Regions from separate parts of the Homo sapiens genome. Here region 2 is linked to region 1. A link means that fine-mapping ties the variant in region 1 to the expression of a gene that starts in the linked region. Tissue or cell type: nasal epithelium. Region 1 holds a variant in brackets; the other region holds the start of a gene. All regions are shown on one strand. Distances are between the middles of the regions.

Region 1 (8,175 bases):
TTAATTAATTCAGAAAGGACATACTGTGTAGCAAGAGGACAGTTTTTCTCTGGACTAAAACATGAGCAACATCCAAAAGTGGACGCCACCTCCCTGCAGGAGCACATTCAGACAGATGCGGGGACTCAAACCTCTCTGTTAAGAGGGGTTCTTGCCAACTTCCTTATCTATGGTCTCCTAGGCTCAGACAAAAGATTCAAAATCCCTGCTAGGATTTAGAAATAACTCAGGGCCAGGTGTGGTATCTCACACCTGTAATCCCAGCACTTTAGGAGGCCAAGACAGAAGGAGACCAGTTTGAGACCAGCCTGGACAACATACAAACAAAAAAAATTTTAATTTGCCAAGCATGGTGGTGTGTGCCTGAAGTCCTAGCTACTCAGCCGATCAACGCTGCAGTGAGCTATGATTGTGCTACTGCACACCAGCCTGGGTGACAGAGCAAGACTCTATCTCCTTTTTTTTTTTGAGATAGAGTCTCACTCTGTCGCCCAGGCTGGAGTGCAGGCTCACTGCAAGCTCCACCTCCCGGGTTCACGCCATTCTCCTGCCTCAGCCTCCTGAGTAGCTAGGACTACAGGCACCCACCACCACACCCGGCTAATTTTTGTATTTTTAGTAGAAATGGGGTTTCACTGTGTTAGCTAGGATGGTCTCGATCTCCTGACCTCGTGATCTGCCTGCCTCGGCCTCCCAAAGTGCTGGGATTACAGGCGTGAGCCACGCGCCCGGCCAACTCTATCTCTTTTTAAGACAAAAAACGAGGGGAGGGGAGGGGAGAACTCAGAAAAACAGCAGGATGGTTCACAGTTTAAAGTCAGACAGACTCAAGCTGGAACACTGTCCCTAACAGTAGCTGTGTGACTGATACAGTATAACATCACAGCCTTCAGTCAAGGTTTGCAAACTCAAGTACCTACAAGGTGGAAAACATAAATTCATGAAGTTACTGTGTACAAGGGCAAGTCCCAGTACTGTGTCAAGACTGAGGGGTCAGGAAAGCACAGCCCCATGTGGAGGTGGTGCCTGAGAGCCAGATCCAGCCAATTGTTGCCACCGGGCAGCACAGGCTCAGTGTAACTAGACCTTCCAACTTTAAAAAGCCAACATCAGCCAGGTGCAGTGGCTCATATCTATAACCCTAGCACTTTGGGAGGCCAAGGCAGGAGGATCACTTGAGCTCAGGAGTTTGAGACCAGCCTGGAAAACATAGTGAGGCCTTGTCTCTACAAAAAAAAAAAAAAAAAAAAAAAAAGTTTTAATTAGCCAGATATGGTGGCATGTGCCTGTGGTCCCAGCTACTCAGGAGGCTGAGGTGGGAGGATCACTTGAGTTTGGGAGGTCGAGGCTGTAATGAGCTGTGATCACACCACTGCACTCTGGCCTGGGCAACAGAGCAAGAACCTGTCTCAAAAAAAAAAAAAAAAAAAAAAAAAGCCAACATCCCCTGTTTTGAAAAATCTCTCCAGTATGTCAGCTGCGCCCAAACAAAACGCATCTGTGGCCTGGATCAGACCTAGAGGCCACTGGATTGCAACCTCAGCTCTAAGCCTGAGATCTGCAAAATGAGGGCAAATAAAAGAGCCTCGCTCTGGGAGAATGAGATGGGATTAGGTCTGTCAAGCATTTCACACCGCCTGACACACAGAAAGCACTTGATAAATGGTGACTATTAACTATGCAGAGTTGGAAGGGACTTCAGGAAGACCCACCCCAACCTTCTCATTCCACAAGATGAAACTCAGACAGGTCCTGTGACTGAGCCACAACCTGCAAAGGAGCCAGTGGCCAGTGGCAGGCTGGACCCAGGCCTACTGACTCCCACCTGAGTTCTGAAGGCCCAAGCCGCCTCTCTGACTTACAGAAGCAGTTTATCACCCACCACTCCGTAAGGGTCCCTCCTGGGGGCTGGTCTACCCCATTATGGGTAGCTCCCCCAAGGGAAGTGCTGTGTGTACATCTTTTTCATTCACTGGAAGAGCTCGGCCTCACCTCGGGCAGGTGATGGGGGCTTGGTCAACATTAACTGACTGACTGATCAGCGGCAATGCTCCCCTAGCCCTCCCAGCCCCACAGTCCAGTTTACACTGTATGTGGTCCCTGGCCCAGGCCCGTGCCAAGCTCAACTTCCTGCCCTAGCCCAACCTGGGCTAGTGGAAAGGAAACGCTGGGCATAAAAGGAAAGAGGTGACATCAATAGGTAGAGAGATGAGGAGGGGACAGGGAAGGGCTGAGCTAAAGAAGGCAAGCCAGAGGGACATGACGTGTATTTGGGGCAGGGCCAGAGTGAGGGCTGGCACAGCTGGGGAAGAGAGAGTGACGGGCTGGCACAGGAGTGGGGAGAGCAGGCTCCAGGGGAAGGCTGTGGCTGCTGGTGGCACAAGGGTCCCCAGACAGAGGAGCTCTGGCCCTGCTGGGTTTCTGTCACCCAGGTCCTGCCAGGTTTAATCAGCCAGGTTCCAAAGAGCCAGCTGTGTTCCCTGAGGTGAATGAGCACGCCAAGGTTGTGTCCTGTCCCCAGGCCCCCAAGATCCTGTTCGAACTCGTTCTTACTAAAAAACTTTCCACGCTTGAGGGCTCAGGGAGTTATGGCCTTGGAATTCCTCCCACTCATTCCAAAGCATACATTAAAGCTTTCCAATTAACACCAGCTGAAAAGTAAACCTTCATTTTAAAGAGGCAACAGAGGAAAGGAAGAGGGAACGAGTGGGCAATGAATTTCCCAAGCAGGCATCTGAAACCGCGGAACTGCTGGGCTGAAAGGACCTCCAGGATCATCTGGCACGAACTCCTTGCGCTACAGAGAGGCACCCAGGCCCAGAAAGCAGAGTGACGTGCACATGGTCACACAGCCAGCCCATGTGGAGCAACACCAGACTCCGGGGCGCTGGCGGCCAGGCCCGTGCCCTTTGAGTGACAGGGCACCGTACTTCCCCTCCTGCCCTAGCCCAACCTGGGCTAGGGCATATTCTCACCTGGGAAGAGCCAACACCTCCCCACAGGAGCAAAAGCCCAAAGTCACCCACACCTTTCAGCACAGGTTTCTCTCACCTGCCAATGGCTCACTCCCTTCCCCAAATCAAAGGAGGTGACCTGAAAGAAGGGAGAAGCGGGGTGCACAGGATGTGGTCAGTGGAGAGGAGCGGGGGTGCATTCACAGCAGAGAGGCCCTCCAGTGAAGCACACAGCCCTCCGGGCAGGGGCAGGACGGGCTGAGAGGATGGGGAGGGAGAGAAGGCCAAGACTTCCTGCAGAAAAAAGCACACACAAACATCACACGGGCAAGGGCATTTCACAACGGAGCTCCTGGAAGGCAGGGGCTGATCTGGGAGTCCCAGCAGGCCTGGCGAAGCTCAGACCCAAGTTTCCCCACCTGGAAAGAACACGGACTTTGGAATGCCCCAGATTTGAGTTTACATCCCTTTTCTGGCATCCAAACTGGATGACCCTGGGGAGTCAGTGAACCCCCCGAGCCTTGTTTTTCTCACCTATAAGTAGATGTCTAGTGCAGCACCTGATGCATCAAAGGTAAAGCAGGAACTGCTGGTTATTCAAACCACTGAGACTTCCCTCCTGGTATCTTATCCACCCTTGGCCACTTTATAAGCATCCTGAGGGCAGAGAGCATAGCAGCTTGTCCAGTGTGGGGTCAGGGAACCAGCTTGGAGAATACCCATTTGTGGACTGACTTTCTAAACAACATTCCCCTACCTTCGCTGTCGGGGGTACAGCCCAAGGGGTTGCATCTGCTGATAGTGTCCCAAAGGCGGTGCTAAGCTCCATTTTCACCCTACTCCATCCATACTCCAGGGTCCCTGTGGACAGGGCGATCTCGGTCCTGCGCCCACAGCTCTCCCACACTGTCCACCGAAGTCCTGCCTGTCTTTGCAACCTGCGTGCCAGGCTTAACATGTCACCTGACCCTCATCACATCTCTGGAGGGGCCGGAGGGAAGAAAAGGAGGCGTAAATGTTTTCCACAGGTCACAGATGATGAAACTAGGCAGAGAAATTAGGCTGCTGCTACCTGGCAGTCAGCATAAGCCCAATTCACACCATGGCTGGGAGTGGGAGAGACCCACTGGGCACAGCTGCAGGGAGGGAGTGCCAAGGAGGCCAAGGGCTGCAGGTGCAGTGGGGCTGAGCTGAGAGGAATGTTTCCCCATGTTTGTCAATAAATATAAAATAAGTATCCCTGTTCCATTAAAAAAAAGAGCAGAGAGGGGTCTGGCCAGGAGCGGTGGCTCATGCCTGTAATCCCAACACTTTGGGAGGCCAAGGCGGTCGGATCATCTGAGGTCAGGGGTTCGAGACCAGCTTGGCCAACATGGTAAAACCCCGTCTCTACAAAAATACAAAAATTAGCCGGGCATGATGGTGGGTGCCTGTCATCCCAGCTACTCGGGAGGCGGAGGCAGGAGAATCACTTGAATCCAGGAGGCAGAGGTTGCA[C/T]GAGCCAGGATCATGCCACTGCACTCCAGCCTGGGCAACAGAGCAAGACTCCATCTCAAAAAAAAAAAAAAAAAAAAAAAACGGCGGGTGCAGGGGCGGTGCGGAATCAGGTAAATGTGATAATGCAGCTGTTAGTGCTGGAAATGAGGATGAGGATTTTCTACATGCCGGGGGGGTTCTACATGCTTCACGTATCAACTCACTTCACATTTGAATAACCTTGTGAACTAGAGCCTTTATAATCCCCACTTCACAGGCGAGAAAAAGAGTCTTAAATAGCTTCCCATGTCACATAACTGGAGAGTGGCAGGCCCAGGAGGGGAACCTGGCATGGGGCACTAACCACCTCCCTGCACTGCCTCTTACCACACATGCCTCCTCCACCTTCAGGCCATTCCCTTCACCTCCCAGCCCTGAGGTGACAGCTCCGCAGGTCCCAGGACCAGCAGCCACTGCCTCCCAAGGTGCTTCCTCTCGCTGGAGGGGTCCGGGACCTGGATCTGCTCAGGGGATTGGACAACTGCTCCAACCCCCTAAATCAGGCCAGAATTCTCCTGGGATGTGCTGTTCCCATAGTCTCAGGTTCCCAGAAGAACAGATGGACAGGAGAATTTCTGAATGAGTAACTAACCACAGAAAAATAAAGTTATGTAAATCAGCCTGGAGCACAATTACAAAGAAATTAGGGATGGCCTTTCCAAAACTCAGCCTGAGGAAGTGGGAGATACCCAGAATGTGTGCTGCCTGCCCCGGGGCAGAGCTGGGCCCACGGTGGGTTTCCAGGCTGCCCCTCTTTACAAAATGATGAGGTTTTTACCCCACGGGCAGCAGCAGAGGGACCGCTAAGCACTTGGATTTCTCCCACCAACGGAAGAGACAGGCCCTAGGATACAAAAATCGGGCAAATAGTCCCACCACTTCCTCTCCCCTCCCCTTGTTCTGTTTCTGCTGAAGTGCTTTTATTAATGAGCCACTCGCCACAATCTCCCTCCTGCAGCTTATAAAACAGAGTCCAAAAAATGTACCACCGACTCTGCCCTATCAGGATAGGAAATGACGGCAGGAAAACTCAAAACCCTCCCATCACAAGCCCTTCCAGCAGAATGGGTCACCCTTGCAACACCCATCAGGAAACCTGGATGACGAGGAACCGTCTGTGCAGCCACCCAAGACAGCCTGGAAAACAGGAGGGGAAATGGGGACAGGCCTTAGCTGGAATTTTATGTTTTCCATAATTTAGAATGAGACTATCTATCCTGCTCGACTACTTCCTTTCCTAAAGCCATCCTGCTTGTAAAGGTGAAGATCTGTCACCCTGAAAGGCTTAATAACTCTTCTGACACTCAGTTTGTGTCTGTCCCCTATGGGGATGTCCCTCTACCCCTCAGAGCCACCTCGGGCTGAGGATGAGTCCAGGAAACAACAAACAACCACCAAGCCAGAATGCGTCCAAGGGCGGCCACAGAGGTAGTGGGGTTTAGAAATGAAGTTATCTGAGAAACAGCTGATGGAACTGGAGAAGAGACAGAGGGGTTCTGTTGTCAAATACTCCCAGGTTGTCATGCGGACGACAGGGCAGGCGCGCGCTCCCGGGCTCTGACGGCAGAGGCACGGCCAAAGGATGGCTCCGGAAAGGCAGGGCTGAAAACCTGAGCTGTGCAGCAGCAGGGGGCAGTTCTCATCAGCAGAAACAGCCAAGCAAATGCTGGCCACATGACGGGAATCCAGTGTGAGGGTGACCTACGGGGACCCTTCCTCCTCCAAGGGCCTCTCTTTACCTTACAACAATCACAAGCCCTGCCGAGCTGCGTGACCTCAGGACGGAGGGCTCTTTCTCGGTTTTGAGTATCGTTTATTCTAAGTGCTCAGGAAGTGCATTATCCCCAGCACTTCACAAGCATTGCCGTGTTTCATCTTCATCAGAACCTAGTAAGACAAGTACGATGCCTGTCATCACATGGTAGGTACCCAAAAACATCCCTTTTACCAATGAGAAAACTGTGACTCAGAGAGGATTCGCAGCTTGCTAAGGTCAAATGTCCAGGCAGCAGCAGAACTTGTTTGTGAACCCCAGTCTGAAGCCCCAGGGCCTGCATCCTGATCTGCTATGCAGCTTATAGGGGCAGCAGCCTTGGTCTTGAGAGACCTGTTAAAGAGTTGGCAGGCTGTGATCAAATGCAACAGGGACATCACTAGCAGGGATCAAGTTGTTTTCCCAGAATGCTCAATAAACATACATTGCTTTTACAAAAGAAAATAGCGAAACTTTTATCTAAATGATCAAGTTCAGCCCACTGTCTTGCAATCAGAAATGTGTCCGCTTAAGAAGTAGTTAGCCAGTCAAAAAGACAGACAGTAAAAAGGGTTGTTAAAAAAATAAAAATAAAGGTTGTCTGCAAGGATGTGGAGAAACTGGAGTCCTCACACACTTCTAGTGGGAATGTAAAACGGTACAGCTGCTTTGGAAAACAGTCTGGAAGTCTTTAAACAGTTCAACACACAGTTATCGTATGACCCAGTGCTACAGACTGAATATTTGTGTCCCCAAAATATTCTCATGTTGAAATCCTGGGCCCCAAGGTGATGGTATTAGCAGGTGGGGCCTTTGGGAGGTGATTAGGTCATGAAGATGGAGACTTCAGGAATGGGATTGTGCCCTAATTAAAAGGGACCTCAGAGAGCTCTCTTGCCCTGTTTCCACTGCATAAGGATATAAGTTTAGAACCCAGAAGAGGGCTTCACCAGCACCTGACCATGCTGGCACCCCGATCTGGGACCCCCAGCCTCCAGAACTGGGATAAATAAATGCCTATTGTTTATAAGCCACCCAGTCTGTGGGACTTTGTGATATACAGCAGCCTGAGCTAAGACCACCTGCAATTCCACTCCCAGGTATTTGCCCAAGAGAACTGAAAACATATGGCCACACAAAAGCATGGCACATGAACTTCACAGCCACATTATGTCTAAGCCAGAAAAGGTGGTAATAACTCACAAGTCAGTCAATGACGAATGGGTACAGATAAACAAAATGTGGTCTGTCCGTATGCTGGAATATTACTGAGCCCTAAAAAGGAATGGAATTCTGACACGTGCTACAACACAGATGAACCCTGAAAACCTTATGCTAAGTGGAAGAAGTCAGTCACAGAAGACCACATATTGTATAATTCCATTCATATGAATGTCCAGGGTAGGTAAATCATGGAGACAAAAGATACATTAATGGTTGACTCAGACAGGGAGAAAAACTGGGGGCAGGGAAGGGGGGCATGGGAGTGATTGCTAATGGAGTTTCTTTTGGGGGTGATAAAAAGGTTCTAAAATTGACAGTGCTGATGGTCACACGCTGAGAATATAGTAAAAACCACTGAACTGTCCTCTTCAGATAGACAAACTCTATGGTATGTGAGTAACATCTCAATAAAACAAACCTGTTGGCCTTCTTCCTTAATGTTATCAGATTACAGGGAATCTTTTTTTTTTTTTTTTTTTGAGATGGAGCCTCACTCTGTCACCCAGGCTGGAATGCAATGGCGCAACCTCGGTTCACTGCAACCTCCACCTCCTGGGTTCAAGCGATTCTCCTGCCTCAGCCTCAGGAGTAGCTGGGCTTATAGGCACCCACCATCATGCCTGGCTAATCTTTGTATTTTTAGTAGAGGTGGGGTTTCACCACATTGGCCAGGCTGGTCTCGAACTCCTGGCCTCAGGTGATCCACCC
Region 2 (8,175 bases), 41 kb after region 1:
AAATGAAGACAGAAAATGCCACCGGGGTTCCCAGGAAAAAGAGGTTCATTTGGGATGGGATGCCAGGGTCTTGAGAGGAGCTCAGACATGAGAAAGGTCTTGAAAGAGGAGAGGGATGGAAGAACCAACCAGGAAGGTGGAAGAGGATGAACTAAGGGGCCAAGAAGGAACGCGCAAAGCATGCTTGGGAGATAAGTCTGGCTAGAACCAAGGGTTCCAGGAGGGAGGAGAGTGGCGATAAGGCTAGACAGGCAGGATGCTGAATGCCAGGCGAATGCACCGGGATTAGATCCACTCCCTCTTAGTCAGTGAGGATGACAACCACTGCAGGCTGGGCCCTCACGGCAGAGAAAAGAAGTCTTGTCCTCTCTTGTTCCAAGCATCTTAGTCCAGTCTCCTCCACGAGGTTATAAATAACAGCCACCGTTTACTGCACACCTGCTGTATATGAGGCCCTGAGCTACGTGCCTCACATACATCAGCTCATGGCTCCTTCCCAACACCCTGAGTACTTGGTATTGTTATCCTCATTTTGCAAGCAAGGAGCTGAGACTAAAGGAGGTGAAGGCATCCGCCCAAGTCCCAACCCACTCACTCATTCACTTAACAGTGCTGGCTGGCCCTGGGGTTACAGGCCTGCGAAAAGGGGGCACTCCCTCCAGCCACCCCAGGTTCAAGGGCTTCCCACCTAAGCTGGGCTGCTTCTCCACAACTCTCCCGATTAATTCCTCAAGGTCAGCATTTACTAAGCACACAGCAGGAGCTTAATAAAGCACACTAAACAGACAGAATAGTGGCTGCCAGAGGCTGGGAGGAGGGGGAAACAGTTGTTTCAAGAATATTAAAGCTTCAGTTTTACAAGGTAATTTCTGGAGCTGTCGCACAACAATGTAAATAGACTTAATGCTACTGAACTGTACATTTAAGAATGGTTAAAATGTACACTTAAGATTTTACATTTGCCAGGCGCGGTGGCTCATGCTTGTAATCCCAGCACTTTTTGGGGCCGAGGAGGGTGGATCATGAGGTCAGGAGTTCAAGACCAGCCTGGCCAACATGGTGAAACCCCGTCTCTACTAAAAAAAATACAAAATTTAGCCGAGGGTGATGGCGGGCGCCTGTAGTCCCAGCTACTGGGGAGGCTGAGGCAGAGAATTGCTTGAACCCGGGAGGCGGAGGTTGCAGTGAGCTGTGATTATGCCACTGCACTCCAGCCTGGGCGACAGAGTGAGACTCCATCTCAAAAACAACAACAACAAAAAAAAGATTTTACATTCAGTGTTTTTTTAACCACAATTTTAGAATTTTTTATATAAAGCACACTTCCTAATTGATTGAGTGGCTGCCAATATCTTACACTGTTAATTATCTGATGCTGGAAGAGACTCTAGAATATTTCTAATCCAATATACCACCAAAACAGAGAGTTGGAAAGAGGAGGTAAATTGCCCAAGGTTGCACAAATAGGTGGTGCCAGGTGAAGACAAGGCTCAACATAGAGGAAAGGGGCTGGGCGTGGTGGCTCACGCCTGTAATCCCAACACTTTGGGAGGCCAAGGTAGGAGAATTGCTTGAGGCCAGGAGTTCAAGACCAGAGACCAGCCTGGGCAACATAGCACAACCCTGTCTCTACCAAAAAAAAAAAAAAAATTTTTTTAATTATCTGAGCATGGGGCCTGTACCTATAGTCCCAGCTACTCGGGAGGCTAAGGTGGGAGGATCACTTGAGCCCAGGAGTTGGAGGCTGCAGTGAGCTGCTTGTGTCCCTGTGCTCCAGCCCAGGCAACAAAGCAAGACCCTGTCTCTAAAAAAAAAAAAAAAAAATAGAAGAAGGGGCTAAGTACGGTGGTTCATGCCTGTAATCCCAGCACTTTGGGAGGCCAAGGCAGGCGGATCACCTGAGGTCAGGAGTTTGAGACCAGTCTGGCCAACATGGCGAAACTCCATCTCTACTAAAAATACAAAAATTAGCCAGGTGTGGTGGCGGGCACCTGTAATCCCAGTTACTTGGGAGGTTGAGGCAGGAGAATCACTTGAACCCAGTAGGCAGAGGTTGCAGTGAGCCGAGATAGTGCCATCGCACTCCAGCCTGGGCAACAAAAGCAAAAGTCTGTCTCAGAAAAAAATAAATAAATAAAATAGAAGAAGGGCAGAGAGGCAGATGGCAGAATAGATGGCACAAGGCAGGAAGGTCAGAAGCCAGGGTTCAAGTTTTGCTTCTTTCACTTAATGAGTGTTGTGACCTTAGATAAGATACTTATTCTCTCTGAGTATCATTTTCTTAACCTATAAGAAGGCAATTAAAAGTAACAAACTTCAGCCAATGCGGTGGCTCACGCCTATAATCCCAGCACTGTGGGAGGCCAAGGCAGGTGGATCACTTGAGGTCAGGAGTTCAAGACCAGCCTGGTCAACATGGCAAAACCTCATCTCTACTAAAAATACAAAAATTAGAAGGCGTGGCGGCACGCGCCTGTAATCCCAGCTACTCGGGAGGCTGAGGCAGGAGAATGGCTTGAACCTGGGACGCGGGGGTTGCAGTGAGCTGAGATCCTGCCACTGCACTCCAGCCTGGGCAACAGAGTGAGACTCTGTCTCAAAAAAAAAAAAAAAAGTAACAAATTTCACAAGATTACGTATGAATTAAATAAAATTATATACAGCTAATGTAACGTGCATAGAAAAAACTTGGCCAACTATAAATTACTTTATCAACACTAGTTATTGTTATTAATATTAAATATCTGTTCATAGGTTTAAAAAGCTCTGCCAGAATATTAAAATCTGATTAAACCAGACCAAAAAAAAAAAAATCCTACTCTCACCTGTTCAGGGACTTGCACACAGGGCGTCTTCAGTGAGTGAGAGTAGAACTGAATTACACTTCAAGTTTTATCTACCCCAATCCTCTCCCTCCAACCCACAGCCCAGCTGCATCAGCCATGCCAGGACCAAGCCGAGGGTAGGAAGCCGGTGTAATTGTCTGCCTCTCTGGCTGCATTCCTTAGCTAAATATAAATGATTTGTCCAGGCTATTGTTTGAAATTATCCATAATCCCTCTCCTCCCCTCCCCATTACTTATGATGGCAAGCTGGCTGCGTATCTCTATAGCAAAGCATATATTCAACATTCTCTGTGGCTATTTTCAGTAAAGAGAAGGGAGCTGGCAGGTATATATAGGGATCCTCGCATGAGTCTTCAGTTTTCTCCACTAGTCCAGGAAAGCTTCCTGGAGGAGGAAATACCTGAGTCACCCCAGGGAAAAGGACAGCTGCAGGTCAGAAGGGCACGCGCACATAATGAGAGACTGGGTCTCTGAACTAAGAGTTACCAGGTAAGGCAGGTAAGCCCCTGCCTTCTTACCCCCCGTTTTGGTGATGCGAGAAAAAGGTAGCTCAGGGGATCCCATACTAGCCCAAGCTTCCCCAGACAAAACAGGCATTTGGGGGAAGATGAAGCAGTGACTCGTATATTTTTCAAAGAGGGAGGAGATCCAAGACTCCAGTTCCAAGATGTACAAGTACAAATATTGCTCTTACAACAACAAGCCGGTTTCTTGTTTGGATCTTTTTTTAAAAACCACAAGAAAGTTTTTTGAAGTCCCAAACTTGAATGCACAGATGGGCTAGATCTCCAACTTCGGGATGTGCCAGAGTCCTGTCACTCGGAGTGCTGATCTTCCAGCAGTGGCCCAGGGAGCGGTCGCGGGTGCCGGGGGGCTGCAGGCCATATCCCAGCCCTGCCCGAAGGCCCCCTGGCCCTCTCTGGGGTCCTTGTATGGACTGTCCCAAGCGGTGCACGGGGTCACACAGTCGGAAACCCTTGCCGGCCCCGGGTTACTCCCTTTCTGAAACGGTCTTCCTCGGAGCCATCCCCTGGAGGACCCCACTTCGCTCGGTGCCCGGGCCCCGCACCCACCCTCCCCTTCCCGGCCCGCTTCCCGCACGGCGCCTACTCTGTTCCTCGTCCTCTCGTCCCACCGCCGCCCTGCCCACACTGCCTCCCGTGGGCGCCCCCGGCCGCTCCCCCTTCTCGGGTCTCGGCCTGGGGGTGCCCAGCCCGCCCGGCGCCGGCTCAAGGCCGCGCGACTCCGCACGCTCTCGAGACCCGCCTCGCCGCCCGCCGCCCGGGCCGCACTCACCGCGCCCGCAGGACCTGGGGGTCTCCGCTCTGCTCGCGCTCCGGCACCGCCGCCGCCGCCGCCGCCAGCGGAAACAGGGGGCGGGGCCTGCCCGGGAATGGCGAGCCTGCGGGGCGGGGCGGCCCGGGGGCGGAGCGGGGAGGGGCGGGGCGGAGCGGGGAGGGGCGGGGCGGAGAAGGATCGCAGGGCTGAGCGGGGCGCCAGCGCCAGTGCCCGGCACTGCCCCGGGCTGGGTCCCCTGCGTTAGAGGAAGGGGAGCCCGGGGACGGGGCACGGGGCCCGCGAGGCACGGGTGCTCTCTCGGGGTTCCGGAAGCCTCCCTCCCCGCCCCGCCGCCCGCATGCCCGGACCGGCCGCTCCTCCGAGGTGCTATGATCCCGCCTTCCCCCTGCGGCGAACGGGCCTCTTCCCGGGGTAGGGGCGGGGAGGTCCGGGCCTGGCAGTGCGCTCTCCTGGGCTCTGCGCCCACACGGCACCCAAGGGCCTTCCTGGCCCAGGCCTCGGCTCTCTCCCTCGCGCCAGGCTGCCTGGCCTCGCCACCCCACCCCCACACCTACGAACCCCTTCCCTGGTGTTTCGGGCGGACTGTGCGAGATGCTGACAGCGCGGGTGTGTGTTGGAGCCTGCCTGAGACACCTCCCGCAGAAAGGGCCATGCCTCCCCAGGAGCTGGCGGCCTCCAAGGGCGACTACAGGGCACCGTGTGCCTGAGGGGTGCGCTAAGGCAGGAGAAACTCCAGCTAGGCATGTCTGGCCCGGGCGCTTTTTCAGGCCTGGATTTTATGTGTTTTTTGCTTTTTGTTTTGTTTTGTTTTTTCTTGAGACAAGGACTCACTCTGTTGCCCAGGCAGGAGTGCAGTGGTGCGATCACGGCTCACTGCAGCCTCGACTTCCCGGGCTCAAGTGATCCCGCCTCAGCCTCCAGAGTAGTTGGGACTGTAGGCGCGCACCACCACGTCCGGCGAAGTTTTTGATTTTTTTTGTACAGACGGTGGTCTCCCTGGGCCCAAGCTGGTCTCAAACTCCCGGGCTCAAGCCATCCTCCTGCCTCTGCCTCCCAAAGTGCTGGGATTATAGGCCCGGATTCTTAAAGCTAGAAGGCCTAAACTTGTTTCCAAAGAGCACTAAAACGCCATCTCTTCTCATCATTACTGTCATCAAAAATGTCTTCTAGGCCAGGTGTGGTGGCTCACGCGTGTAATCCCAGGACTTTGGGGGGCCCAGGTGGAAGGATTGCTTGAGCTCAGGAACTCAGGAATTCAAGAACAGCCTGGGCAACATAGGGAAACCCCATCTCAAAAAAAAAATGTTTTAATTAACCGGGTGTGGTGGCACACCCCTGTAGTCCCAGCTGCTCCGGAGGCTGAGGCTCAGGCGTTGGAGGCTGCAGTAAACTAGGATCATGCCACTGTACTCCAGCCTGGGCAGTAGAGGGAGACCCTGTCTTTAAAAGTGAAATTTTTTTAAATTTTAAAGAAACTGTATGCTGTGCTTCCCACGTGCCCTACCATTGCACTAAGCTTGACTGGGGACAAGTTTTTAAAACCTGGCTATAATCACTAGGGTCACTTTTGCTTTCTGCTAATTAGACTGGAAGTTTCCACTCATCTTCTGGGCCCCTTTCCGTCACACACATGCAACCTTGTTTTTGTCTATTAGACTAAACCCATAACCCATTTCCTTCTGATCTCCCTTTCCCCACAAGGAAAATATTCTCCTTCTACATTTTGCTTCATCCAAAGCCCTGTTCAATGCCCCTATAACAAAGTCTTCCCAAGGAACCCCCACCAGCCCCAATCTCTCCAGTCACTGCGGCAGAGTTGGGTACATGTACCCAGAAAAGGAAACTGGGTCTCAGACAGGGAAAGAGATATACTAGGATTGTCTGCCAGCAAGCCAACTCACTGGCAGACCATTGGACGCAGCCTGGTGAGGGAGTAGCCGCAGGGCTTGGGAGCCAGACACACCTGTCTGAATCCTGGCTCTGCTTTTATCGGCTGGGACCTCTTCAGGCCTGTTTTCTCACCTGTGGAATGGGGCATAAGAATACCAATTATGGGGATGGGCATGGTGGCTCACACCTGTAATCCCAGTACTTAGGGAGGCCGAGGCGGGTGGATTACCTGAGATCAGGAGTTTGAGACCAGCCTGGCCAACATGGTGAAACCCCGTCTCCACTAAAAATACAAAAATTAGCCGGGTGTGGTGGCACATGCCTGTAATCCCAGCTACTCGGAGGGCTGAGGCAGGAGAATTGCTTGAGCCTGGGAGACGGAGGTTGCAGTGAGCCAAGATCGTGCCACTGCACTCCAGCCTGGTCGACAGAGCGAGACTGTCTCAAAAAAAAAAAAAAAAAAAAACCAATTCCACAGGGTTGATGGGCTGACCAAGATGATGGAGTAAAAGCACAACATGTGATGTGTGGTGACTGCTCTACAAATGCTAGCTTCCTCCTGCCCTTTTTGGTTTTTGTTTTGTTTTGTTGTTTTTGAGACAGGGACTTGTTCTGCCACCCAGGCTGGAGGGCAGTGGTGCCATCATGGCTCACTGCAGCCTCCAACTCCTGGACTCAAGGATCCTCCAACCTCAGACTCCTAAGTAGCTGGGACCACACGTGCATGCCACCATACCCAGCTAATTGGGGTTTTTGTTTGTTTTGTTTTTGTTTTTGTTTTCGTTTTCGTTTTGTTTTGTAGAGACAGAGGCCTCACTATGTTGCTCAAGCTAGTTTTGAACTCCTGGCCTCAAGCAATCCTCCCACCTTGGCCTCCCAAAGTCCTCCTGCCCTTTAAAAAAAGATAGGCGGAGCACAGTGGCTCACACCTGTCATCCCAGCACTTTGGGAGGCCAAGGCAGGTGGATCACTCAAGCCCAGGAGTTCGAGACCAGCCTGGCCAACATGGCAAAACCCCATCTCTACTAAAAATACAAAAATTAGCCAGGTGTGCATGGGCGTGGTGGCACATGCCTGTACGGGAGGCTGAGGTGAGAGGATTGCTTGAGCCCAGGAGGTCAAGGCTGCAGTGAACCATGATTATACCACTGCTCTCCAGCCTGGGTGACAGAGTGAGACTCTGTCTCAAATTAATTAATTAATTAGAGCAAATCTGAAATAATGGAATTCTGAAGTCTTAGAGATAGATGAAATCTTAGAAGAAATCCCTCAGCAATAGCCCAGAAAATGGCTTCACTGCTCACTCTCCTTCACCACATTCAGAGGTGAATGCCTCAGTGCCTCTGAGGGGCTGACAGTTGGAAGGAAGCTCTGAAGAAAAGCTGTAGAGGAGATGGGATTATTCAGCATAAAGGACACAAAGGTGACTAGTGGTCTGTGAAGCAGACACACTGATAGTGTCCACTGAGGACTAAACGCAAGTAAACCTGACAATGACGCACCACCCTCTTGGGGAAGGGACTTACAAACGCATGAAGTCACTGCTTATCATACCAGGCTTCTGAGGAAATGTCATTGCATTTCCCTTCTGGAGGAGATTCTGAAAAATGCTGAGGTTAGATATAGGTAGGGTGACTGTATCCAGGTTTCGGGGGCACATCCTACTTACTCCTCTTGTCCTGGCATAGTTCCTAAGTCCCCTTTCACTCTCGAAATATCCTGGCGTGGATGATAAATTATATGCCATTTTAACTGTGAACAAAGGCAGGACTCCAAACAGCTCCTTCCAGGCCTGGATGTCAGCAACTCTGCTGGAATTTCTGGATCCCCAGGGACTTCAAAGGATAGCATGTCAGTTTATCCCCTTGAAATCACCAAATCAAATCAAAAATGACAATAGGCTAAAATTAAAGTCCCAGCCAACCACCCCAAGTCAAGCTTCAGGACTGTGCCTGCTGAATTGCGACACCTAGTGGCGAAAGTGCACGCTGCCGGAGCGGGGTTCCGCCAACACTTCACATTCGGCCATAGGTTTCAAGTGACTTGCAAAGCAGCTAACAGCTAACATGTACTGTTTATGTGCCAGGCACAGTTCTAAGTACTTTACATGTTCTAACCCACTGATCCTCACAACAACACC

The links. PIP is the estimated chance that this variant, and not a neighbour inherited with it, causes the effect.
Region 2: TSPAN9 starts here. The variant in region 1 is fine-mapped to the expression of TSPAN9 in nasal epithelium (TOPMed, PIP 0.90).

What each region holds. Positions count from the first base shown.
Region 1 is chr12:3,114,614-3,122,788 of GRCh38, reverse strand. The region is part of intron 2 of TSPAN9 (tetraspanin 9); the gene reads right to left. Among named protein-coding and RNA genes, the nearest start is that of TSPAN9-IT1, 31 kb to the left of the region's middle. The variant C/T (reference allele first, on the strand shown) is at 4,452.
Region 2 is chr12:3,073,421-3,081,595 of GRCh38, reverse strand. It overlaps TSPAN9 (tetraspanin 9), which reads right to left and starts at 4,217. Exons shown (of 9, transcript NM_006675.5): 1 at 4,143-4,217. RefSeq lists silencers at 4,112-4,611, 4,662-4,711, 7,928-8,077 and an enhancer at 7,859-8,153.